Linked DNA regions of Homo sapiens: all the other regions are linked to region 6. Evidence: fine-mapped expression QTL. A gene starts in region 6. Each other region holds a variant in brackets. All regions are shown on one strand. Distances are between the middles of the regions. Region 1 overlaps LINC00639 (long intergenic non-protein coding RNA 639). Region 2 overlaps LINC00639 (long intergenic non-protein coding RNA 639). Region 3 overlaps LINC00639 (long intergenic non-protein coding RNA 639). Region 4 holds the start of LOC105370457 (a long non-coding RNA gene). Region 5 overlaps LINC00639 (long intergenic non-protein coding RNA 639). Region 6 holds the start of LINC00639 (long intergenic non-protein coding RNA 639).

The links. PIP is the estimated chance that this variant, and not a neighbour inherited with it, causes the effect.
Region 1: its variant is fine-mapped to the expression of LINC00639 in whole blood (TOPMed, PIP above 0.99).
Region 2: its variant is fine-mapped to the expression of LINC00639 in whole blood (TOPMed, PIP above 0.99).
Region 3: its variant is fine-mapped to the expression of LINC00639 in whole blood (INTERVAL, PIP 0.92).
Region 4: its variant is fine-mapped to the expression of LINC00639 in whole blood (TOPMed, PIP above 0.99).
Region 5: its variant is fine-mapped to the expression of LINC00639 in whole blood (TOPMed, PIP 0.91).

What each region holds. Positions count from the first base shown.
Region 1 is chr14:38,826,581-38,830,708 of GRCh38, reverse strand. The region is part of intron 4 of LINC00639 (long intergenic non-protein coding RNA 639); the gene reads left to right. Among named protein-coding and RNA genes, the nearest start is that of LINC00639, 88 kb to the left of the region's middle. The variant C/GTC (reference allele first, on the strand shown) is at 2,025.
Region 2 is chr14:38,871,367-38,875,494 of GRCh38, reverse strand. The region is part of intron 2 of LINC00639 (long intergenic non-protein coding RNA 639); the gene reads left to right. Among named protein-coding and RNA genes, the nearest start is that of LINC00639, 43 kb to the left of the region's middle. The variant C/T (reference allele first, on the strand shown) is at 2,182.
Region 3 is chr14:38,774,513-38,778,640 of GRCh38, reverse strand. The region is part of intron 4 of LINC00639 (long intergenic non-protein coding RNA 639); the gene reads left to right. Among named protein-coding and RNA genes, the nearest start is that of LINC00639, 140 kb to the left of the region's middle. The variant C/T (reference allele first, on the strand shown) is at 1,581.
Region 4 is chr14:38,876,994-38,881,121 of GRCh38, reverse strand. All of the region lies in intron 2 of LINC00639 (long intergenic non-protein coding RNA 639), which reads left to right. It overlaps LOC105370457 (a long non-coding RNA gene), which reads right to left and starts at 2,392. Exons shown (of 5, transcript NR_135256.1): 1 at 2,381-2,392. The variant G/A (reference allele first, on the strand shown) is at 1,891.
Region 5 is chr14:38,882,163-38,886,290 of GRCh38, reverse strand. The region is part of intron 2 of LINC00639 (long intergenic non-protein coding RNA 639); the gene reads left to right. It overlaps LOC105370457 (a long non-coding RNA gene), which reads right to left. Exons shown (of 5, transcript NR_135256.1): 2 at 3,651-3,695. Among named protein-coding and RNA genes, the nearest start is that of LINC00639, 33 kb to the left of the region's middle. The variant C/T (reference allele first, on the strand shown) is at 2,055.
Region 6 is chr14:38,914,776-38,918,903 of GRCh38, reverse strand. LINC00639 (long intergenic non-protein coding RNA 639) reads left to right here and starts at 2,022. Exons shown (of 5, transcript NR_039982.1): 1 at 2,022-2,122. The region is part of intron 4 of LOC105370457 (a long non-coding RNA gene); the gene reads right to left.

The DNA of each region.
Region 1 (4,128 bases), 88 kb after region 6:
ACATAGCATCCTGACTTTGTTTTATGACTGTAATGCTCTCTTAATTCCTGTGAGGTTATTTATTACAAATGACTGCTGCTTCTCTCCATATTGCTTTTCTTTGCTGAGTTCTGTTTTTGTTAAAATTTTTGTTTGTTTGTTTAGGTCTTTCATGTTGAAGCTTTCCTCAAAAGGCTAACATGCTTGGCTTACTGTTTGTATTTAAAGAGTGAGGCACTAAGAATCTGACTGAGACACTAAAATCTGGCTGGGCTTATTGATTGGGCAAAGATCTAGTAGTTTATGTGGGAGAAGACACCCAGCTCTCAATATTAGTTCTTTTCCCTTGAGCTGATCAAGCTCTCCAGAAAAGAATTCCCCAATTTTCCGACTTCTAGTATTTTACAAGTTGATAGGGAGAAGGAGATCGATGGTTTAATTATCTAGAGTAAACCTCTCCTTTCCTGATGAAATAGTGTATGAGAAGTTTTCTGGCTGGATGGGGTGGGTGAAAGGGTGGGAAGATAACTGTCCTCTATATAGGTTTTCAGCCACACTCTTGTTTTTAGTCCCACTCTTCACCCTTCACCCTCTGTAGTAAGCAGTTTCTCAAATTCCTCATGCTTCCTGGGATTCTGGAGCACCAACTAGCTTCCTTGTATAGTGGCTTCCCAGTTCCACGCACTTAGGTTTCATTTCCTCTGCTTTGCTAGTTAACACTGGCCCATCTACTTTCTGTCTTCCAAAATTATAATATCTCTTATCTGTTGTTATCCCCTTTACTATTCTGTTATTATTCTGGTGATATTTTAGGATGGAATAGAATAAAGCAGGTATATTTAAACTACCATGTTTGATGAGTAGCCTCACTAGGAAGTTGCAAAGACATTGTTACATTGAAAGCCTCAAGGATTCCACACTTGAGAATAGATGGTTCAACTGTTTTTGATGCCAGTAGAGTAGGGATCTTACCACCCTTTGTTCATTTCATCCCACACAGTACAGATGTACCAATAATTCTTCCTACCTGCCAGATATGCTGATAATTTTCCTTACCCACCAGATGTCCACAGTCCCACCTCCCTTTCTTGGAGTACATTAGCACAAGCTGATGAGGTTTAAGGAAAATAGTCCACACAGGGCAATCAGTGGTTGAGGTGCTGGATGATAACGAAGTGAAGTTCTGAGCATGTAGGTCAATAAGAACAATTGGTGTCATTGCTGGGCACACAAAATGGGACATTCTTGCTGAGAGTAAGGGCTGGGCATTCTGCCTGAGCAACTCACTTTCTAGTCAGCTTCTGGGCTTAATGGTCCTTTGTCAGTTACTCTTTCAACTCCTATCAGGCTGTGGCCCTTTACCTTCCTTGAACAACTTCCTAAGGACTACTTCCAGACTTTGTAGGTTGCCTTGTACTCACTGCCCCATTTCTATTGCTCCTTGTCCATTTCTTCTGTTTATCTAGGGGAACTCTTTGTTTCTCTAAGGGGTACATCCTTATTTCTACTGTCTTCTCAAATTCAATCATCTTGTTCTTTAGCATTTGATTTATTGGCTCATTAAACTTGGAACCCAAATTACTAGCAACCTCAAAACAAGTTTTCTTTCTAGGTTACTGGTCTAATGTTTAACTTATTTTAGGTAACTGACCTAATGTTTAAATATATAAATTCTATTGCACCAAAAAAGGGAAGAAAAACCACCAGTCAGACCTCCATCTTGAAACAGTCCAATGTTTATATGTTGTCATGGACCTTTGATGACTTAAAATTGTGTCTCCGTCCAAGTCATTTGGAACTCTTGAAATAGTCAGCTAGCCAAAAGTTATTTTTAAGTGCTAATTTTGTGCCAGCTTTTGGAAAAACAAAAGTAAATAGGAAGGAAAAGATTTCTTGCTCAAGAAGAACAAGAGTTCTAGTTTGAGAGTTAGGCAATGAGCATCTAAACCAAAAATGTATGTAAGAGTACGAGAGAGTTAGGTTTCAAAGATGGTAGTCTCTAGAGCAAGATTATGGGCTAGAGATCTTAGGAAGTGCAGAAACGT[C/GTC]AAAAAGAGGAAGAATAGCAGCATATTCAGAAGGTGAACCCTGTAACTTGGGAAATCCAGCTGAAACCACAGATGCTGATTTCCTATTTGAACTGAACCTGTCTTTTTTCTTTTGAGACAGGCTCTTATCTCTGTCACCCAGGCTGGAGTGCAGTGGCACAATCATGGCTCACTGCAGCCTTGATCTTCTGGGCTCAGATGATCCTCTCACCTCAGCCTCTCAAGTAGCTGGGATGACAGGCATGTGCCACCACCCCTAGCTAAGTGTTTTGTAGAGATGGGGTTTCACCATGTTGCCCAAGCTGATCTTTAACTCCTGGGCTCAAGTGGTTCACCCACTTCAGCCTCCCAAAGTGCTGGGATTACAGACACGAACTCTCATGCTCGCCTTGTTGTTTCTTAAAAAAATCACATTGCTGAGCATAAGAGGAAAAATTGAATCTTTTTCCTATAATAAATCAATCGCTGGTAAAACTTAAAATGAAGAGCTAAAAGTTCTTCCAGATAACACATAAATGTCTTTGCAGGAAAGTATCTCACTATCAAATCAATCTATGCAGTTAGGCCAGGTAATTCTCCTTTCTAAGCTGATTTTGTGGCTGAACTTTTATTGTATATTGAAGGTGATAAGTAAGATAAAGGAAAGACAGTTTGGATGAGGATAGCATTCAGCATTGTGTTCAGTTTATGCAGTTAGATTTTTTTTTCTATTTTGAAATCTTATTTATTCTTTCAAAATGCTTTTTAGGAAAACATTTGAAATAGATGTTTTTATTATCCAAGGCGCTTGTGATGTGGCAGGTTTTCTAACTGTGGTCAGATTCAGATGGTGAATAGTTCTTCATAATAACACTGATGTTTGGTGTGCCAGTTTCTTTTTATGTAGTTATAATGGATATCGTTTTTGTTCATTTTCCCCTTGTTTCCCTCATCCTATGGTATTTTTTACCATTCACCTCCCAGTATAGTATGAAAAAAATTATCTCCTGAATCACCTGTGTCTCTCAACAGGTCAGTTACGATTTGGTCAACTTGGAAACTATCCATAGAGCTAACCTGAATGCTTTGGGCCAGTAACTCCACTTAGTTCTCAACTGCAATGAGGGATTTCTATTTGATTGAAGTGTGGAGGAAAGGCTCCGAGCCAGGGGGAACACAATTGCTGACAGACTGGCATGATAAAGGCCCTAATGAATGCACTTTATAGAGCACAAAGGTAGTGTCTTTTTTGAGTCAAAATTTGGAGTCTGACTCAGTTCATATCCAGTCTCTGTCACTTGCCAGTTGTGTGACTTTGAGCAAGTCCTTGCTGAACCTCGATTTCTTCATCTGTAAAACAGACACCTTAATGTATCTGCTTTACAATGATGCTATACTCTTTAAATAAGGTTATATGCAAGATACTGAATATATATAATAGCACAAAATAGGTGCATGATAAGTTAAAGACAAAAATAGAGAGCTGTAGATACTAATACTATTCTCATTTTCAGATTTTTACTTGATAATGATGAAAACACTTCAAGGACATTGGCTAAATGTTTAAAACAGGCAAGTTGGGCAATAGAACCTAATTTAAAAAAAGACAGGAAGGTAGTGGACAGAGCAGCATTGCATAAGCAGTCAGATAGCAACTCTTCCTTGTAGTCTGAAGCAGATTTACTAACATAAATATTTGAATATTTTGAGTATTCCTTAATAAGTCAGGCATCCATGACTGACTAAGCATCATTAATACAAAGTATCTTATGTATCCTTAGTACTTAAAAGTTGTATTATTAAAGGGAAAATAAAATTGGAATATTGCAGAGGAAAAGTTATTCATAGGTTGACATAAAAGACATAAAATCTTGTAGTGCATAAGGTTTAATAGTTCTCTTTTTCATAAATCATGAAAAGGGCTTTTCTTCTAATTTGATGGACCATTTCTCTTTCTCCTTCTCCATCTCAGTCTGGTGTAGCACTTGGTGGTGTCCAATGAATATTCATGATGACCGATTTCTTCCCAGCGGCAGCACTACATGTAGAAAGAGAGGTTCTCACTGATCGCTTCTGATCTGTAGAGTACAATTTAAAAACCAGCCTGGTTAATCCACAAACATAA
Region 2 (4,128 bases), 43 kb after region 6:
TGCAGATATTAGGGAGGGCATTAAGTTACATTTTAGGTGATCATTCATCTTCCACCTTCCTACAAAAATCTCCTGATTTGAGCCATGCTGCTTATAGCTCCAAGATGCTACTGTGCCATTCTGGGGAAAGTTGTGTAGTGTAGTGTTGGGAGCAAGAATTCTGGAGCCAGACTGCCTGGGCTTAAATCCCTAGTCCTTCTAGTATAGCTGTGTGACTTTAGGCAAGTTGCTTCATCTTTCTGTGTCTCAGTTTCTTCATCTGTAAAATGAGGATGATGAAAATAATAGTTTCTATCTCATAGGGTTGTTAGAGGTGTTATGCTTGGCATCTAATAAATAAAGCCCTGAGAAACATACAGTTGGTATGCACAATCAGTAGCTTGGAGTTCATTTATCTCAATGCCAATATCTATACCTTCACTCTGCTCCCAGAACTCACTTTCATGCTCACACCTTGGATCTGGTCACCACTAGGAACTAGGAACTCATCTATTTCTGAACTACTGCTTTTTGTCTTTAACAGTTGTCTCACTTTCTAAGTTTCATCCTCTTTGGTCTTTGAATTTGTGAAGACTTCTAGTTCCTTGACATTTCCCTTTGCCTTCTGAGTAACATACATCAGCTAGATTAATTTCCTTCCCTTTTCCACCTACATCTTTTAAGCTTCTCTTGCTAGCACCTTCAACTCTCTTGCCCATTTGCCATGCGATGCCCAAACCCGGATCAATTCATCTCTCCTTTTATTCTTGGAAACCCAGAGCATTGTGGATTAATGTCATTAGAAAAAGGTAGGATCTCTAATCCTAAGTAGACCCTCAAAACCACCCAGTGATCCTCCAAAGTGCCTTTGTTGAACTTCCTTTGCTATCTCCTATGCCAAGTTGTTCCAACTTTTATGACTTTCCTAATGTCTCTTACCCTAGACCTTTCTTCTCACCAGACCTAGGAGGAATAAACACTGTTCACTTAACACTGATTTTTTTTTAGAATAGTCTTCAACTGCACCTGTTTTTCTTTTCGTCTCTTTTTCTTAGAGTCCAATGTTCTGCTGACATTGCAGTCCTGTCTGCTCTTACTGCCTTTGACACTTCAATTCTGCAGTGACCTTCTTTAAGTCTCATATTTTGAACTTCTTCCTCTCCCCTGGTGTAATGCTTAAGTTTCATTTATCTTCAGAACAAAACCTCATGGCTCCTGGGTCCTCTCTAGCCTTATGTTTCTTTATGAGGCAAGGCTGAATTGTCTTCACTCCTTCATCTGTTATTTCTATCTTAGCTTCCTGCAATCTGACTTCTCTCCTGTTCTACCCGGGATCATCTGCTTGGTGAGTCTATTGGAATCTTATGTTTTCATCTTACTTGACCTCTTCACTGCACTGCTAGAGACTTCCTTCTCAAAACTCCCTTTTTGTGCCTTCTTCCTCATTTACGATTTTCTTCTTGTTTTCTGGCTGCTCATTTAAAAACTCCTCTGTGGACTCTTATTTCTCTTCCTGCTTCTTAAATGATGGTGCTCAAAAGAGTTAGATTCTCAGCCTCTCTTCTGACTCACAAGCTCTATATAATGTATTGCACTTTCAAATTCAACCCATAAATCAAAGACTCCCAATTTATACCTCTAGCTTCATACCCAAATTAATTATGTAATTCTCCAACCCCAAACTCAAGCTTATCCTTAGTGGTGAATTCAAAGCTCATTGGGATCTTATCTCTGCTTACCTTTCAGCCTGATCCCTTGCCACATCTTTATTGTAGCCACATCAAACTGCTCCCCAATTCTCCAAATGCAATAGGCTATTTCGCTGCTTTGAATGCCTTTCCACTCTTTTTATCTAGAAAGCTCCCACTTGTCTGATGGGATTTGAGTCAGTTGTCGCCTACTTTGTGAAACTCTCTCTGACCCCTCTCCTGTTTTCAGATCAATTTTGTAATGCTTCCGTTTTGCAGTATCCAGTTCATATGTATCTTTATATGTCCATTTGATTGCATGGTTAGCATTGATGTGTCTGTGTGCTTTGAGAAAGCATGAGAAACTTGAGGCAGGAATTTAACTTGTGATTATTTTCATCCTGTGGTCAAATCTATCTTTCTAGCCCCAGCACACGGCACGAAGCCTGGTGCAGGGTAAGGAAACAAAGATGTTTTCATCATTGCACATGTTATCTCCTGCATCTACTCTGGC[C/T]GATCATGGTTCTTCACTACCTTGAGGACACTGGCTACAGCACTTCCAGTGAACCATAGGGGAATTTAAGCATAAAGGGTTTTAAACTTATCTAGGCCAAGATAATAATTTTATATACCTTTAAGGAAATATGTGTATATTTGTAATTAGCTATGAAAATATAAGTCCTAGTCCAGGCACCATGATATTGAAATAAATAAAAAAAGGATTGATTACCAGAATGAAGGTTAAACTGCTAAAGAGAAACAGGCAGCAAGTCTAATGACAACTTCAACATATACGGCTTCAACTTTGTCTTCTGATTTTAAGTGGTTTCTGTGGAATTTTTTTGTTTGATGTTGACACTTGGAGGGAGACAGTGTGCTTTTTCCTGGTGTGGGTAGGGGTCTGAGCATGTGCAGGTTGCTGACTTCCATAAGGGGCTCAAGGTGCAGGCATTGGGCTAGCCATGCCTATGGCGTTAGTGCATGGCCCAGTGCTTTGCACACACTTCATGCTCAACAGGCATGTGCTAAATGAATACATAAGTGAATAAGAGAACATGTTGGTGGTACCTCATGGAAAAGTGAGGGGAAAAGTATAGTAACAGGATGAAGCCCATGTGTCATAAAAGTTTGGTCTAAGTGTGGTCTTTGGCTTGGGTCAGCTTCTTGGTATCTGAGAACATTTTCCGCCTTGACACAGAGCTCTTGAGACAGCACAACTTGCTGATGACCTCTGGGCTTGTCTTCTTCTAGAGCACAGCTTTTCTTGTCTGTACTCAGGTATAGGTTTATAAAACTCATTGACCACCTGTTGTTTTATCATCTCAAGTTCTACAATTCCTCAGACAGCTCTGTTACTCCCCTCTCACCTTTCCCTGGCCCATTTCCTTTAGAGAACAGGAATCTCAACTAAATTGAAAGAGATCTTACCTAAAACAAATATGTCAAATGCACTGAGCAAAACACAAAGGAAAATTTATTAAGCTTCTAAGATGATGTTATTAACAGTAAAAGTAAAGAAAACAAACATTTGAAATAAGATAGTTGGATTCAAGGTTTAATTTTTGTTTAAATAATCTGTTTTTTATTAGATTTAAAAATGTAATCTTTACTCCAATATGTCAAAAGAGCCAGGTATTATATTACTACAGAGTTTTTCTTCCAGAAGACCTTATAAGAGAAATACAAAAACATAGGAAGAAATACTTAGTAATTGAATAATTCTAGACTCTGTTAAGTGACAAGCAAATTTATTAACCCTGGTAATTTACATGGAAATCAGAGAAACAGTCAACCTAACATTGCATTTTGCTATTTTTTAAGACAGAAATGATTAAACATGTAAATTCAAATTTAAATTATTCATAACTACTGTAGCTGCAGTATTAGCTTCAAGCATTATTAAAAGTAAATGTTTTGCTAATTTGATAAATCATATATCAAATATATGATAAATCAAAGTGTTTTAAATTTTTAATATGATTTTTAGATCTCCTAAACCCCCTGCCCTGCATCACAACCAAATATCCTAACTTTGTTACACGGCCTCTATCTAAGCTCCTGAATTTCTTATAGCACAATGGGGACTGGACTCTCCCTCAGTAAATCTCTCTTTGTGAAGAAATTTTCCATGAGGGAAATAAGTCCAAAAACAAGATTAATGCTATGCTGTCCATCATGTTCTGTATTTTAGCATACCTGCTTTTCCAGTTTCTAAATTCAGAATATAGGTTTTTGTTCTACTTACAACCCCAAGCAGCTTAGGAAAAAAGAAATTCAACTTTATGTAATAATTCTACCTTGGAACTATAGTGTCTGGTTGCCACAGATGCATGGGTAGAGTGTATTCATCCTTGTTTGTGAGTAAAAGCTAGTCTGTGCATCTAACTTAGGAGATAAAAGATATTTGATATTCTAAAATCTTTTCCTTTTTGTTTTTTTGAGATGGGGTCTCACTCTGTTG
Region 3 (4,128 bases), 140 kb after region 6:
TTTTCATTTCCTTGTCTTGGTGTTGGTGCTCAGCAGACCTGTGGAACACACTTTCTACAGCATGCTGCTGCCATACAGCCACTCTGATTTGGCATTTGCTCTGGCCGAGATACAGAGTAGAGTTTTCAGGGCTGAAGGTGGTATTCCCCCCACTGCTGCATCCTCTGCCTGTCCTCAGGGATGTTACTCCCTTCACACACTCATGATCTTCCTGTGGGTTAAGGCAGAGACAGTTTTCTTGCCAGGGAATTTAAGATGATGGGCAAGCTGGTTGTCCACATCGATCTCACTTTTTCTAGTGTAGAAACTGTGAGTTGGTGAAAAATTTCCCACATGCTTGGTGCTAGGCAGAATGGAGGAAGGGGTGTTGTGGATATGGAAGATTAATTTTCCTGTCACCTGCTTGGAGTTTTTTCACTTCCCTGTGGCCCTAGGATCTGTCTCATCTTCATATATGAGTTCTAGACTATTGCTGGTGATCATCTCAGCACTGCATATTTGTTTTCTGTTTTCTGTGGGAAAAAGTGAAGCCAGCTTGCTTCTGTGTTGCCATTTTGGAACTGGAAGTCCCCTTATGGGAGACTTTTAATTACTAATTCAACCTCCTTATTTGTATTGATCTGTTCAGATTTCTAATTGCTTTATTGTTCAGTCTTGGTAGGTTATATGTTTTTAAAAATTTATCAGTTTCTTCTAGGTTTTTCAGTTTGTTGGCATATAATTATTCATAGCAGTTATGATCTTTGGATTTCTGTGCTGTCAGTTGTAATGTCTCCCTTTCATTTCTGACTTTATTTGAGTCTTCTCTCATTTTTCTTAGTTTAGCTAAGGGTTTGTCAATTTTGTGTGGTTTATCAGAAAACCAACTCTTAGTTTCATTAATCTTTTTTATTGTTTTTCTAGTTTCTATTTCATTTATTTCTGTTTATATCAGTTTGTTTTGGTAAGTGTTGGGCAGGCTGCCCAGTGTGGTCTTCTGTCATATCTGTCATTTCTAGGTTACCATCTTGGGCAGGTGTCCCCAACCCCTGGCCATGGACCAGTACCAGTTTGTGGCCTGTTAGGAGCCAGGCCACACAGCAGGAGGTGAGCAGCAGGCAAGCAAGCATTATGTCCTTAGCTCTGCCTCCTGTCAGATCAGCAGAGCCATTAGTTCTTATAGGAGTGCCAACCCTATTGTGAACTGTGCGTGGGAAGGATGTAGGTTGCATGTTCCTTATGGGAATCTAATGCCTGATGATCTGAGGTACAAGTGTCATCCTCAAACCATCCCCTGTGTCTACTGTCTGTGGGAAAATTGTCTTCTACAAAACTGGTCCCTGGTTCCAAAAAAGGTTGGGGACCACTGATCTAGGGGACCCATCTCAAGGGTCTTCTAGGTATAATTTCAGCCCTTGCTCTCCACTTATGCCCCTCTCTAGTCTTCCTTCCTCCTACAATATAAGGTTGTCCTGGAAAGTTGCTTTATTTTCAATTCACTGATGTTACTTATCTTAGGATCATTAATTGGGAAGGCATTGGACTGAGGTGGTTCCAGTGTCCTGGGATCCTAGGTAAGCAAACCAAAACTTAAATCAGTG[C/T]AACTGGTCATTATCTAGGCCAATCAGAAACAGCCAACTAACTTCTCACCTGGAACTTCCTGCTGGAATGTACTCTTTGCCTTGCTTCTGCATTTACCCTGTGAAATCCTTTCCAGAGCTGCTTGTAGTCTGGTGCTGTATGATTCATGTATCACTGTTTTCATAAATAGACTCTTCAATATTTGAATGTGTCTAACTTTATCTTTTAACACATATATGAATGCAATTTGATGTACTTTGTTGTTGTAGACAAGCTCAGGGGCTACATGAAGAACAGCAGGTTACAGCAGGTATAACTGATACTTAGTGTTCAGAGTAGGGTTCTTGTCCTAGCCCTTATTATACATACATATTCAAAGGGAATAAGTGGGGAAGAGAGACAAGGACTTGGAAGCATTATAGGCAGTTAGGGTAGCCAAGCACTTGGGAATGAAATCTAGATGGCACAGGACGGGCATACACTTCTAGGTCACTCTTCTTTTCCTGATATTGTCAATTAAGGAAATTCATCATCTTACTGTATCATGCATATGAAGGCTTAGTCTACCTATCCACTTTGAAGTAGAGTGTTAAGGCATTTATGCAGGTAATTTACACCAAAAAGAACCCCCATCCACCCACCCATTTACTTGAATTGTCTAGGTATTGCAGGGAAATACGTATTTTAGATCAGGAATTATGCCGATCATTTTTTTTCAATTCATCATTTTACTTTTTTCCCAAGTTTTTTCACAAGTACAACTTTGGTGAAATATAAAGAGAGGAGATATGTGTGTCAGAGACTCAAATTTCTCTTAGCTTTATGTGTTATTATTCAGGCTTCCATGTAATTTCCTCTGAGGATGTCATGATTTGTATACACCCTGAATACATAGCAATTTGCTTGTTTTCATTGGCACTGTGTCTGATAGTTGCTGTAATCTTTGGGAAACCTTTCAAATTTTGGAATATTACTAGTCTTCTAGAATAGATAATGTTTATTATGTTGCTTCTCATTTTTAATCTCACCTTTAAACTTTTTCTTTTATAGTAGTATCCCCTAGTGATAGAGGCACAATATCATAAAAGCCTAGACCAGTCTCCATTAGCCATGGAAATTAAGGGAAGGAATATTGTGGATAATATAAAGGAAACATACCCGACTGAATCTCCATTTTGTGCACTTGTGTTATGAGCTATTTTGGGCTTTATAATGGTTCTAATACAATCATAAAGTCATTAGGAGAACTCAGAAGAACATGGAAAATTGTCTCATTTTCTAATTCTTCCCTTTGCTTATGCAACTCCTCCTCCACAGTGTGAAGCTCTATTTTGCTTATACTGAGCTTTACTTTTGCCCTCGATTCTCCGATTGTTTAGTGTATATGGTTTGGGAAGGAGAAGATGGGAGTGCCTATTTTTATTTTAAATGTTTTCTTTGTGGTTAGATCTGGATATTTAAAGAGAAGGCAGATTTCTCAAGTTGTGTGCCCTTCCAGCTCCAAGTGAGCTGTACACATTCAACACATGAAAAGCCGGGGAATACTTCTGGTCCTTTCATGCAAAATGAATACTCCTCCAGGAGATAACTAAGGTTTGATTCTAATAAAGATTCAGTCATTTCCACTGAAGACTTAAAAAAACATACACACAAGAGAGAGGAACAGTAAACTCTGGACATTACTTTTTCAGTAACACATCTTTTTCATATGTTTTGATAAATGTTCAGTTATCTCCTGTTATCTGGTGCCAGTTTTGCTGGTTGCCACTTGCTGAGACAGAAATGCTGGAGGAGGAGGGTGCCAGGCAGGACCTAGTCAGAAGTATTTGCCCAGAAGTGATAGAGACAGTATCACTGAAAATAACACCAGGCCTTTGAAAAAGAAGTCAAGGTCAAATACCAAGAAATGACAGGATTCATATCAGAATGGCACAGGGAACATAGAGTCAGGTTGAGGCTGGGACCATCAATGCTCCTAATTAGTCAAGTAGATGCTGACCAATATCTTTTTTAACAAGCTCCTCCCTGATCTCTGGCTTCTGCGTACATCTCCAGCTTTTTTCTCTCTGGTTCCCAATTCGAATTCTGCTCTAGACCAGTGACTGTCATGCGTAGCCTCATAGAGGCTTGCTTGCTTTCACCACTAAACCTTCATCCACACCATCTCTCTGCTCAGCAATCTCTTTCCTCTGTCCCATCTTTGTCTGGCTATCTGCTCTAGCTCAGAGAAGAAGCACCTTGTTTACAGGGAGAGTCCAATGTGCTAAGGAGAAAGGTGGAGTTGATACCATTAGGAAAATGTAAAGGACATTGGAAAAAAAGCCTTCAAGGAACAATGGGTAACTACCTGCAACATTGTTGTGTAGGAATAAATGCATATACTTTTTTCTAGTCTTAATCAACCACATAGTCAATCTACTTTTTAGGTTCCTGACAGAAACATTAACCTTGAGTTCCCTGCTGCTCAACTCTTTCCTAAAGCTCACTTAGGGGAATAATATTCATAGAGGGACAGGCAATCTATCTATTTCTCTCAATAAATGTTACCCCTGGATCAAGTCACATTAT
Region 4 (4,128 bases), 38 kb after region 6:
AGTGAGTGTGGTGTTCATGCCCTTGGGTACTTCCTCCCTCTTGAGTGTAGGCTGAACATAGTCATATGCTTCTAATAAACAGAACACGCTAAAAGTAATAGGATGTCACTTCTGAGATTAGATTACAAAACAACAATGGCTTCTGTCTGGTTGTCTTGCTTGCTCTGAGGGAACCCAGCTGCCAAGATTGGAGCTGCTTTATATCAAGGCCTTCATGAGAAGAAACTGAGGGATGCTTCAGTCCAACAATCTGTGAGGAAATGAATCCTGTCAACACCATATGAGTGAGTTGGAAGTGGATCTTCCCTCAGTTGAGCCAGGTGAAAATACAGCTCCAGGTAATACCCTGATTACAGTTTTTCGAGAGACCTTGAGGAAGAAGCACCCAGGAACTTTGAGATAATAAAAGATTTCTGTTTTAAGCTGCAGTTCTTGGGGGTCACTTGTTATGTAGCAATAGATGGCTAATTCAAGGAGTTGGGGAGGAAGCAGTTACTGGAGTCAGAGATGGCTGTGTGGCGGTCTCCTGCTAAGAGCTGTGGCTTTCATTCAAGGGTCACATTCAGTGTGCAGGAAGTTGGGGGAATAAATACCCTGTCTTTCTTCCCTGTCCTGCTGCAGTTGTCTATTTGCTGGACCCAGTCAGAAAACAGGAGGCAAAAGAGCCCTTTGGTGAGGTCAAATAGCCAGCCTCCTGTGGCTCAGAGCAGGACAGAGAAAGGGGGAATAGATCTGGAAGATATGTAACATAGGGAAAGAAATGAATCCATTTGTACTTACCATTCAATCTAAGAAACCTTTGTTATAAATACAGTTGAAATCCTCTCTACCCGTCCCTGAACATGTTCTTTTCCCTTTACCCACAGATAGTCGGGATCTTTATCCTGGGGTTATTATTCCCATTCAGTTTTAAATTTTTACCTGTTTTGGCCAGGTGCAGTGGCTCACACCTGTAATCCCAGCACTTTGGGAGGCTGCGGTGGGTGGATCACCTGAGGTCAAGAGTTAGAGACCAGCCTGGCCAACATGGTGAAACTCTGTTTCTACTAAAAATACAAAAATTAGCTGGGTGTGGTGGTGGGTGCCTGTAATTCCAGCTACTCGGGAGGCTGAGGCAGGAGAAATGCTTGAACCCAGGAGGCAGGGGTTGCAGTGAGCTGAGATGGTGCCATTGCACTCCAGCCTGGGCAACAAGAGCGAGACTCCCTCCCAAAAAAAATTTGCTTTATTTGTTTATTTAATTTTCATGATCAGAATGGCCTATAGTGTCCCGGGCATGTGTTAGAATAGTGTTTTATCCTTTGATTCATTTATCCTGTTAGTTTTCCAGATAAGATTACTGGGTCTGTGTGCACCAAGGGGATGCTCCTCAAATTATGCTGGCTAAATTGAGGAATCATACAGTTCTGTTGTTTCATCTATAGCAGAGATCAACATACTTACTGAAAAGGACCAAAAAGTAAATATGTTAAGCTTTGTGGGCTACAAGGTCTTTATCTGTCACCCTATTCACCTCCACCATTGCAGTAGAAAGCAACCCTAGACAATGTGTAGGTGAATTGGTGTGGCTGTTTTTCAATAAAACTTTACAAACTCAAGTGGCAGGCTAGATTTGGCCCATGAATTGTTTCTCTGCTCTATAGCAGCCCTGAGAAAATGACCATGGGACTAGCCATCCTGGTGGCACACATGCCTCTGGGAAGAGAGAATTTTCAGCATAAAATCCCAAAAGGTTCATAGCAGCTGAAAAAAGCAGGTCTGCTTAGGGGCTCCTTTAAGAACAGGCAATGTTGAGAAGAGGGAGGTATATCAGAACCTTGAGGAGAAGCTGAGCACTGGCAGAGAGGAGGAAGTACAAGGGGCAGAAGCTGTAGTGCTGACTGATGCTCA[G/A]TCAGAGTCAAAGTGGGTGATTTGGGGAGGGTAACAACATGGCCAGCAACAACTCCAACGGATAGGAGAGGTGCAGCGGAGTTCGTGGTGGCTTGAGTGATGTCTCAGCAACATATTCTGGAACACAGTGGCATTGAGCACACTGGGCTGTGGTCCATCCAGACCTGAGTGATTCTGGGACCTCAGGCAACAACCTGCTGTAATGCAGGAGTTTAAGACACTGCTGAGCAGACTTCCAGAGAGCCCTGTGGGAAAAACCTGGGAAGGTGTATGCATTTGTATGCATGTGTGTGCATGAGGATGAGGTGGGAGAAAAGAGGAGAATCAGTAGGGTATTTTTTGCTATCAGATTGCTGGTCTGATCATTGTTGAGACAACTCCTGTACCCACAGGGATGGGTAAGGGCATGGCATGAGGTCCTGGGTTGCATGACAATTATATAAGCAGCAGGTTGATTTTTCTTTACATCCACTTCCCAACATTCACCTACCCTGAGATGTCAATTTGTTTCTGTCTTGTCTTTTTTTTAAATTTGTGATTCAAGAAGAATTCTATGAAACAGAAATTCTAGAATATGTTCTGAAATAAAGGGATGTCACAATCAAAGTTTTCTAAGCAAAGACACTTCCCTTCAAAAGAACTCAATTGCTGACTATAAGATGCTGAATTATTTTAGGTTGGTAGCTGAAGCCATATCTTGCAGTTTTTCTATTGAAGGAAGTGCTTTGTTTAGAAAAATGACTTGGTAAGCAGTTGGGAGTAGATTGGCTGGATTGAAAAAGAAGAAGGAATCAAATAAATAGTCAATCTGATATGCATTGAAAGTAAATACTGTATAGTTTGAGAGAGGAGAAAAGCCAAGAAGAGTAGAGAAGAGAGGGAAGGGAGTAAGAAGGAGAGAGATTAGGCAATCTGTCAGTACTCTGGAATAAATGGACAATGGTGGCCAATCAGAGGTTTCTGGTGGAGAGGAGGAGAGGATTTTTAAGAATGGAGATATCTAATCTTCGGTTCTAAGGTGTTTGAATTGCTATGACGTAATGCTCCTTGCCTCTCCAAGCCCTTGGGAAAGTCTGATATTTTTATGAAAACTTGTTTGGTGCTCTTGTGGGAAATAAAGAGCAGTTAAGGATATGTGGTAAACTTCACATTTACCCTACAGCTGATGCCAAGAAGAAGAGGAATGTCATGTGAAAAGGAACAGGAGTTCAGGAGTTCCAGATGAAAACAAGATATAAAATGAATGGCAGTCCTTAGGGAAATTGAGGGTGGCCCAGATAAGAATGAAGTTGGCTCTGGGCCCCTTTTGATAGAATAAACCAGAGGGTGGTGAATATGTGACACACGGGTCATGTTCCTCTTATGGATTCATGAGGATTGTTCAAAAACTCTGAGAAGTCTGGAGTTAAAACAGCAATGACAACAGTGAAAACCTTAATTCTGTTTAATCTAGCATTTTCCAAACTTATTTTACCATGTATCTCTTTTTTAAAACTTAGTAACACTGAGTGTTCTTAGGAATATTCTTTGCCTTTAAACTATTAATATTTTTATAGTTGTGATCAAACCCTTCATTTATAAATAATCTCTAAGATACACTTTAGTAGAGGGTTTTGAAATGTGCTAATTCTTTTGAATGCCAGCTCTAAGAAGCCGAGACTTTAGAATTGAAAGGCAACATGAGGATCTTCTTATAGGGCACAGGCAGGGCTTGGCATGGATTAGGTATGGACGGTGGAGAAAGAACAGAATCAGATGATGCTCAGATTGCAGCCTGGAGCTACTGGGTGGATGGTGGAGCATTTCCAGGGAGAGGGAGCATGAGAAAGGGCAAGTCTGAGCAGGCATGGCCTTCAGGGGTCAGCTCTGACTTGGTTTTTTTTTGTTTTTTTTTTTTTTTTTTTTGAGACGGAGTCTCACTGTGTCGCCCAGGCTGGAGTGCAGTGGCGCGATCTCTGCTCACTGCAAGCTCCGCCTCCTGGGTTCACGCCATTCTCCTGCCTCAGCCTTCTGCCTTCTGAGTAGCTGGGACTACAGGCTCCTGCCACCACACCTGGCTAATTTTTTGTATTTTTAGTAGAGACGGGGTTTCACCGTGTTAGCCAGGATGGTCTCGATCTCCTGACCTCGTGATCCTCTTGCCTCGGCCTCCCAAAGTGCTGGGATTACAGGCTTGAGCCACCGCGCCCGGCCCTGACTTGGTTTTGAACGTGAGGCTTTGAGATGTCTGTAAGATCT
Region 5 (4,128 bases), 33 kb after region 6:
AGATTTCTTGTCCCGATATTTAAAAGACATCACTTTTGAAGAAAAAAGTGAACTAGGGTTAACCCAATTTCTTACCTTGGCGAATATGAATGATATCTATAGTACAGAAAAAAAAAGGTGATACTCATATGAGCCTATATAGAATCAAAGAATTCAATAAAATGCCAGATCATTCTACTTTTTAGGTATACTTGGAAACTGAAATATCATCAAAAGAATTGAATACTGCATGCAGTGAGCCAGTTATTCCTATTGGAGAAACAAATAACTGTATAAATATCTTCTTTGAGCAAGTGGGCAGTTGAATTTCAATGATTTAAAATAGCTTTATTTTCAATTTTAAAATGTCATGCAGTAAAGTTTTAAGGAAACCCTACAAAAATACATTTATAGCAGACTCAAGCAGTTACTTTCAGATAATGAGATGTTTGGTTCTCTCTATTGTGGTTTTTCAGTGTAGACTTCATCTGAATTATCACTTCTTGGCCTGTTGAGATTTTCAATGTACGAGGATTTCTAAGGATATTATTTCCCCCATAACATATTAGCTATGAAGAAATGCCAGTCATCTGAACAATATTTGAAATTTACTGTGCTCTGGAAACTGTCTTAGGTCCTAGGATGGAGTTGGGGTTAGAAGACAGGGGAGGAAATAAAAAAAAGAATAAGATGCCCTGGTCCAGTAGCATTTGCAGTGATGCGTGGGCACTCTGGGATTTCATGGCTCATCATGGTTCTCAGGGCAAAGGTGAAAAAACTGAGTCAATTAGAAGTTTATTATTTTCCATGTTGTCACATTCTGGCCATATTCCTATTGATTTTGTAGTAGACCATTAGAGTATGCCGAGAGCCATACCTTGCCACTTATTCATATAATTCATATTCATTATAACATGCCAGTAGTAAAGAGAAGAATCCCAGTTTCCACTCCCCTTTTTGAATAAACCTTATGGAAACAATTAATGTCATTCATGGGATCTGGGACCTGGTAGATGCTGAGCATGTTTCACCACTTAGAGAAGTGTACAGGAAACCTGAGGTCATTTCAGGATAGCATGGCTAGTTGGGTCAGAAGGGATTCTAGCCTGTCCCATTTCTGCTGAAAGAGTGAAGTTGGTCTTTATTTCACTTGTCTTATATACCTATGCTTAAAAATAAAATAAGGAAACCAGAAGCCAATATTTGACTTTAGTATAAATCCCTTAGGGAACCATTCACTCATTCAGTCATTTCAACACGATCAAGTTCTGAAGCATCTCATGTAGTGGAAAACAAACTGGTACCAGACACTGGGGACATAATGATGAAAAGACTTGGCCCCTGTGTTAGTTTGAGCTTCTATAACAAAGTACCATAGAATGGGTGGCCTATAAACAACAAGAAATTTATTTTTCACAGTTCTGAAGGCTGGAAGTCTGAGATCAGGGTGCCAAGACGGTCCCCTTCTGGTGAAGGCCCTCTTCCAGGTTGCAGACTGCCATCTTTTTGTTGTATTCTCATGTAGCAGAAAGAGCATGGAGACCTCTATAGGGTTCCTTTTATAAGGCTGATCCCATTCAGGAGAGCTCCACCTACATGACCTATTTATGCCCCAAAGACCCCACCTCCTAATACCATCACTTTGGGGGTTAGGATTTCAATATATGAATTTTTTTGGGGAGAGGGCACAAACCTTCAGTTTATAACAGTCCCTACCCTGTAACAGGAATACATTTGCAATGTGGTAAGTGCCTATTGTAGAATGACTTCTGGTCAAGTTTTTTCTAAGGGGTTACTAATTTATTAGTAATTTATTAAAAGTAATGGCAAAAACCACAATTACTTCTGCACCAACCTAAATATTTATGTATTTTGACCAATTTCAGCAGTCTTTCCACCAGCTCCTTGACAAAGGCATGAAACAACTGATTGACTTGGTGTTGTGGACAGATCCACCTCTTGTTTGCCCATCCTGATCAGGACTATAAACTTTCAGGGTCAGCTGGGGCCTTTTCTCTCACAGAATGAAAGCAGCTGAGAGGAGGCTGACTTGGCTGTGTAATCTCTGTCCCACA[C/T]CTTGAAAATTCCAATGTAGGGGTGTTAGAGGAGAAAAGATTAGAGGTGTTCTGAATGGGAGAGATTTAATGTCTCTGTGACTGGGACTCAGACTTCACAGAGATCCCCATTCCCCTCCTCCATGCACACACTCATAAACTCCTCACTGGTCCTCTAACTTCAAGGCTGTTGTTAACACTGAGCTGCAGGGTAGAATGGAGTGGGCTTATCTCCTATTGATTCATTTCTTTCTAATTGCTTGAGGAGGTAGAGTTTGGTTATCAAAACTTTATTTTTGTCAAGTTTTGCTCATCAGTTCAGTGTTCTCTCATCAGATTTTTAGGACATCAGCATATTGTTTCTTTCAAACAAGGGTATTAATGGTATATAAGAAAATCCCCCAAACATAGACTGATACCTTTTCTTTCCGCACCTCCAAGGTAAGATCATTACCAAAAGAGTTTTAAAGAAATGTCTTAGCTCTTGTTAAAAGAGACTACAGAGGCTGAGGCAGGTGGATCATGAGGTCAGTAGTTCAAGACCCAGCCTGGCCAAAATGGTGAAACCCTGTCTCTACTAAAGATACGAAAATTAGCTGGGCGTGGTGGTGGGAACCTGTAATCCCAGCTACTCGGGAGGCTGAGAAAGAGAATTGCTTGAACCCGGGAGGCTGAAGTTGCAGTGAGCTGGGATTGTTCCACTGCATTCCAGCCTAGGCGACAGAGGGAGACTCTCAAAAAAAAGAAAAAAGACTACAACACAACTCCATTACAACAGTAATGAGAGACTATCGCGGAATGTACACCTTTATTAGAGTCCTTATTTCTCAATATTTTAGTAATCTATTTACCTTTTTCTCTATAGACTCTAAGTATCATGAGGCTAGAGACTATGTCCTCTATCTGTGTATTCCCAGTACCTGGCACAGTGCCTAGCCCATGATAGTTGGGCTCAGTAAATATTTGGTGAGCCAATATATGTTCGGTGAAGGAGTGGATATTTAAAAAAATTATCTAGTTATAATGGAATTTCACTGTATAATTTTTGTTTGATGTCCAATTTCAAAGAAGTCATTTTTTTGTCTGAAAGAGCTGATAATGTCATTTTAAAAATCTTTTGATTAAATAAAATGTACCAGCATTTTCTTTCAAATATATCAGCTTATTATTCTGTAGCTCAGTTATCTCTCTCTAGGTATTGAGGAGATGTGAACTCTAAGGGACAAAAGCTCTACATAATTTGAAGGTATTATACTCAAGGCAAAGTTTCTTTTCAGGTAAAAATTACACTGCAGTTTTTCAATCAAGTGAAAGTTAACATTAACATTCACAGGAGAGTTTTTGTGCCCATCACACATCTTTTACTTCCATGACATTAAAAAAATTAAATAGATAGTGCTCCCTCTCAATGAATAATCCAGAAAAAGAAGTAATGAGGCATACATGAAAACCAGTTAATACAACCATGATCTTCTCAACATAATGGTCTGAGGTGATTTATTTGTGTTGACAGTGTTTACTCAACTATAACCTACTTATAAACAGAGTAGTGAGTCATCACTACCAATGATGAGCTTACTTAGGGAATTTTATTTTATTTAAATGGCCAGTACTTACTATATTTTGAGATGGTTGCTCAGAAGAGTGGGAAGAATTTGTTCACTGTAAAAGAATAAATTTTTCAGATAATTATAAGGGAAAAATAAAGTTAATTGAATTATATAGTTGGTATTTAATGTCATAGATGAATTTTTATGTGTAAGCAATCATTATATATGAAAGTTAGTCCCTAGCAATAAAATTGTACTCATGTAAAATTTTTTCCTTGGTTTAAATATAGTCTTTCCTTTCCATTTGAGATATTCAGAGGCTATACTTCATAAACATCAATATCTTTCCAAAGTGATTGGTCATTTTCTTCTCTAGGCTCAGCAGAAAATTAGGAAATACGTAACTCATTCAATAACTAAGGATAAAAACTTCCATGCATTTTAGACTTATTTCTTGGCTATTATGTCTGCATCTCTTATCTAATGGATGGATATCCCAGAAATGAGTTGCCTCCACTCTGGCTTGGTCAATTATACTTAGATGG
Region 6 (4,128 bases):
CTCAGACACTGGTACCATACTATTGTTTCAGAGGTATCATAGTACCGTCACAGTACTGTCTCAGACAAAATGGGATACTTCAGAGAAAAGCAGCCAAGAGAACTAAAGTCCTATCAGTTAAGGAAGAGTAGAAGAAATCTGGAGTGTTCAGCCTGGAAAAGATTTAGGGGATCGTGGTGGCAGATTTAGAATAGTTGAGCAATGAGACTTGCTCTCTCTCCTTGGGTGGAAACTGGATAAATGGACAGAAGTTACAAAGAAGCAGATTCTGGTTATTAAGGTTCAATGTAAAGAAAAGCTAAATTAGCACTATAATGCAAATAGCTTTACGTATTCCTTCCACAAGGCCACATCAGTTGTATTGTGGGTTGTGTGTGTTCGTGTGTGTGTGTGTATTTAACACTTATTCTAAAAAGCCAATGTATTTAGGGGTTCTGAGGAATTTATAGATCTAGTAAACTGTGGGCCTTTTAATGCATAATTTGTGAACTAATCAATTTTCTCATTTTAATACAACCTCCCTCCCTCCCTCTTTTCCTTCCTTCCTTTCTTCCTTCCTTCCTTCCTCCTTTTCCTCTGTTCCTTTCTTTTCTTTTCTTTTTTTTTGTTATACTTTAAGTTCTAGGGTACATGTGCACAATGTGCAGGTTTGTTACATATGTATACATGTGCCATGTTGGTGTGCTGCACTGGTTAACTTGTCATTTACATTATACTACAGGGCTACAGTAACCAAAACAGCATAGTACTGGCATAAAAACAGACACATAGACTAATGAAACACAATAGAGAACCCAGAAACAAACTCATACATCTACAGTAAACTTGTTTTCAACAAAGGTACCGAGAATATATGTTGGAGAAAAGGCAGTCTCTTCAATAAGTGGGGCTTGGAAAACTGGATATCCATAGGCAGAAGAATGAAACTAGACCCCTATCTCTTGCCATATACAAAAGTCAAATTAAAATTGATTAAAGACTTAAATCTAAGACCACAAGCCATGAAATTACTAAAAGAAAATAGCCTACCTCAGCTTCCCACATGCTAGGATTATAAGCATGAGCCACTGTGCCCAGTGATACAACATTTATGACTGCAAAGTAACTCATCTCCCCTTTGCAGTTAACAGCACTTTGTGGGGAGATAATTTGAGACCATGTTGGTTGTCATCAAACCTTCACTCAGATTCAGCATCATTTGATGCTTTCTTCTTCAATCAACTACTACTATAATAGTTGCCAAATAATGACCTTCCAATTCTACCTTTCCTTCTGCATACAGTAATTAGCATTCTTATGTAAGGAATAATTATTTGTTTGTTTATGTAATTTGAACTCATGAATTCCTAGTTTATTTAATGGGCTATAATCTGCTATTATCATTTGTTTATTTTTTAAAAGTTTTATTTTAAGTCCAGGGGTATAAATGCAGGTTTGTTACATAGGTAAACTTGTGTCATGGGAGTTTGTTGTACAGATTTTGTCACCCAGATCTTAAGCCTAATACCCATTAGTTATTTAATTATTAGTTATTTTTCCTGATTGTCTTCCTTCTCCCACCCTCCAGCCTCTGAAAGGCCCCAGTGTGTGTTGTTCCTCTCTGTGTGTCCATGTGTTCTCATCATTTAGCTCCCACTTATAAATGAGAACAGGCAGTATTTGGTTTTCTGTTCCTGTATTAGTTTGCTAAGGATAGTGGCCTCCAGTTCCATCTGTGTTCTTGCAAAGGACATATCTCTTTCTTTTTTATTACTGCATAGTATTCCATGGTGTATATTGATCACATTTTCTTCATCCAGTCTACTGTTGGTGGACATATAGGTTGATTCCATGTGATATGGTTTGTCTCTGTGCCTCCACCCAAATCTCATCTTATAGCTCCTATAATTCCCATGTATTGTGGGAGGGACCCAGTGGGAGATAATCAAATCATGGGGGTGGGTATTTCCCATACTGTTCTCATGATAGTGATGGGTCTTACGAGATTTGACAGTTTTAAAAACAGGAATTTTCCTGAACAGGGTCATTTTTTTTTTTTTGCCTGCTGCCATCCATGTAAGATGTGATTTGCTGCTCCTTGCCTTCTGCCATAATTGTGAAGCCTCCCCAGCTATGTGGAACTGTAAGTCCAATAAACCTCTTTCTTTTGTAAATTGCCCAGTCTTGTGTATGTCTTTATCAGCAGCAAGAAAATGGACTAATAGAGTAAATTGGTAGCAGTAGAGTGGTGTGCTGCTGAAAAGATACCTGAAAATGTGGAAGTGACTTTGGAACTCGGTAACAGGCAGAGGCTGGAATGGTTTGGAGGGCTCAGAAAAAGACAGGAAAATGTGGGAAGGTTTGGAACTTCTTAGAGACTTGTTGAATGGCTTTGACCAAAAGCCTGATAGCAATATGGACAATAAGGTCTTGGCCGAGGCTGTTTCAGATAGAGATGAGGAACTTGTTGGGAACTGGAACAAAGGTGACTCTTGTTATGTTTTGGCAAAGAGACTGGTGGTATTTTGCCCCTGCCCAAGAAATCTGTGGAACTTTGAACTTGAGAGAGATGATTTAGGGTATCTGACTGAAGAAATTTCTAAGCAGCAAAGCATTCAAGAGGTGACTTGTGTGCTGTTAAAGGCATTCAGTTTTATAAGGGAAGCAGAGCATAAAAATTCGGGAAATTTGCAACCTGATAATTTGATAGAAAAAGAAAACCGGTTTCCTGAGGAGAAATTGAAGCTGGCTGTAGAAATTTGCATAAGTAATGAGGAGCCAAATGTTAATCCCCAAGACAATGGGAAAAATGTCTCCAAGGCATATCAGAGGTCTTCATGGCGGCCCCTCCCATTACAGGCCCAGAGGCCTAGGAGAAAATGCTCTCGTGGGCCAGCCCCATGGTCCCTGTGCTGTGTGCAGTCTAGGGACTTGGTGCCCTGTGTCCCAGCCACTCCAGCCCTGACTAAAAGGGGCCATGGTACAGCTTGGGCTGTTGCTTCAAAGGGTGGAAGCACCAAGCCTTGGTAGCTTCCATGTGGTCTTGAGCCTGTGGGTGCCCAGAAGTCAAGAACTGAGGTTTGAGACCCCCTGCCTAGACTTCAGAAGATGTATGGAAATGGTACCAGCTCTTCTTTTTCTTTCTTCTTCTTCTTCTTCTTTTTTTTTTTTTTTGAGACAGTGTCTCACTTTGTCAACCAGTCTGGTCACAAACTCCTGCCTGGCCCCCCCAAGTAGTTGAGACTATAGGCATACACAACCATGCTCTACTAATTTTTTGTATTATTTGTAGAGATGGGGTTTTGCCATGTTGCCCAGGATGGTCACAAACTCCTGAGCTCAAGTGATCTGTCCACCTTGGTTTCCCAAAATGCTGGGATTACAGGTGTGGGCCACTGTGTCTAGCCTTTGTATCAGCTCTTCTTTGTACATCTGCTAGAATTCAGCTGTGAACTTGTCTGGACCTGGGCTTTTTTTGATTGGTAGGCTATTTATTACCACCTCAATTTCAGAACTTGTTATTGGTCTACTCAGGGATTCAATTTCTTCTTGGTTCAGTCTTGGGAGGGTATGTGTGTCCGGGAATTTATCCCTTTTTTCTAGGAAGGGTGTGTGTGTCCATGAATTTATTCATTTCTTCTATATTTTCAAGTTTATGTGCATAGAGGTGTCCATAATATTCTCTGATGGTTGTTTGTATTTCTGTGAGTTCAGTGGTAATATCCTCTTTGTCATTTCTGACTGTGTTTATTTGAATCTTCTCTCTTTTCTTCTTTATTAGTTTAACTAGTGGTCTATCTATTTTATTAATTTTTTCCAAAAACTAGCTCCTGGATTCATTGATCTTTTGAATAGTTTTTCATGTCTCTATCTCCTTCAGTTCAGCTCTGATTCTGGTTATTGCTTCTCTTCTGCTGGCTTTGGGATTTGCTTGGCCTTGGTTCTCTAGTTCTTTTAGTGGTGATGTTAGGTTGTTAACTTGAGATCTTTCTAACTTTTTGATGTGGGCATTTAGCACTATAAATTTCCCTCTTAATACTGCCTTAGCTGTGTCCCAGATATTCTGGTACATTGTATCTTTGTTCTTGTTAGTTTCAAAGAACTTCTTGATTTCTGCCTTCATTTCATTGTTTACCCAGAAGTCCTTCA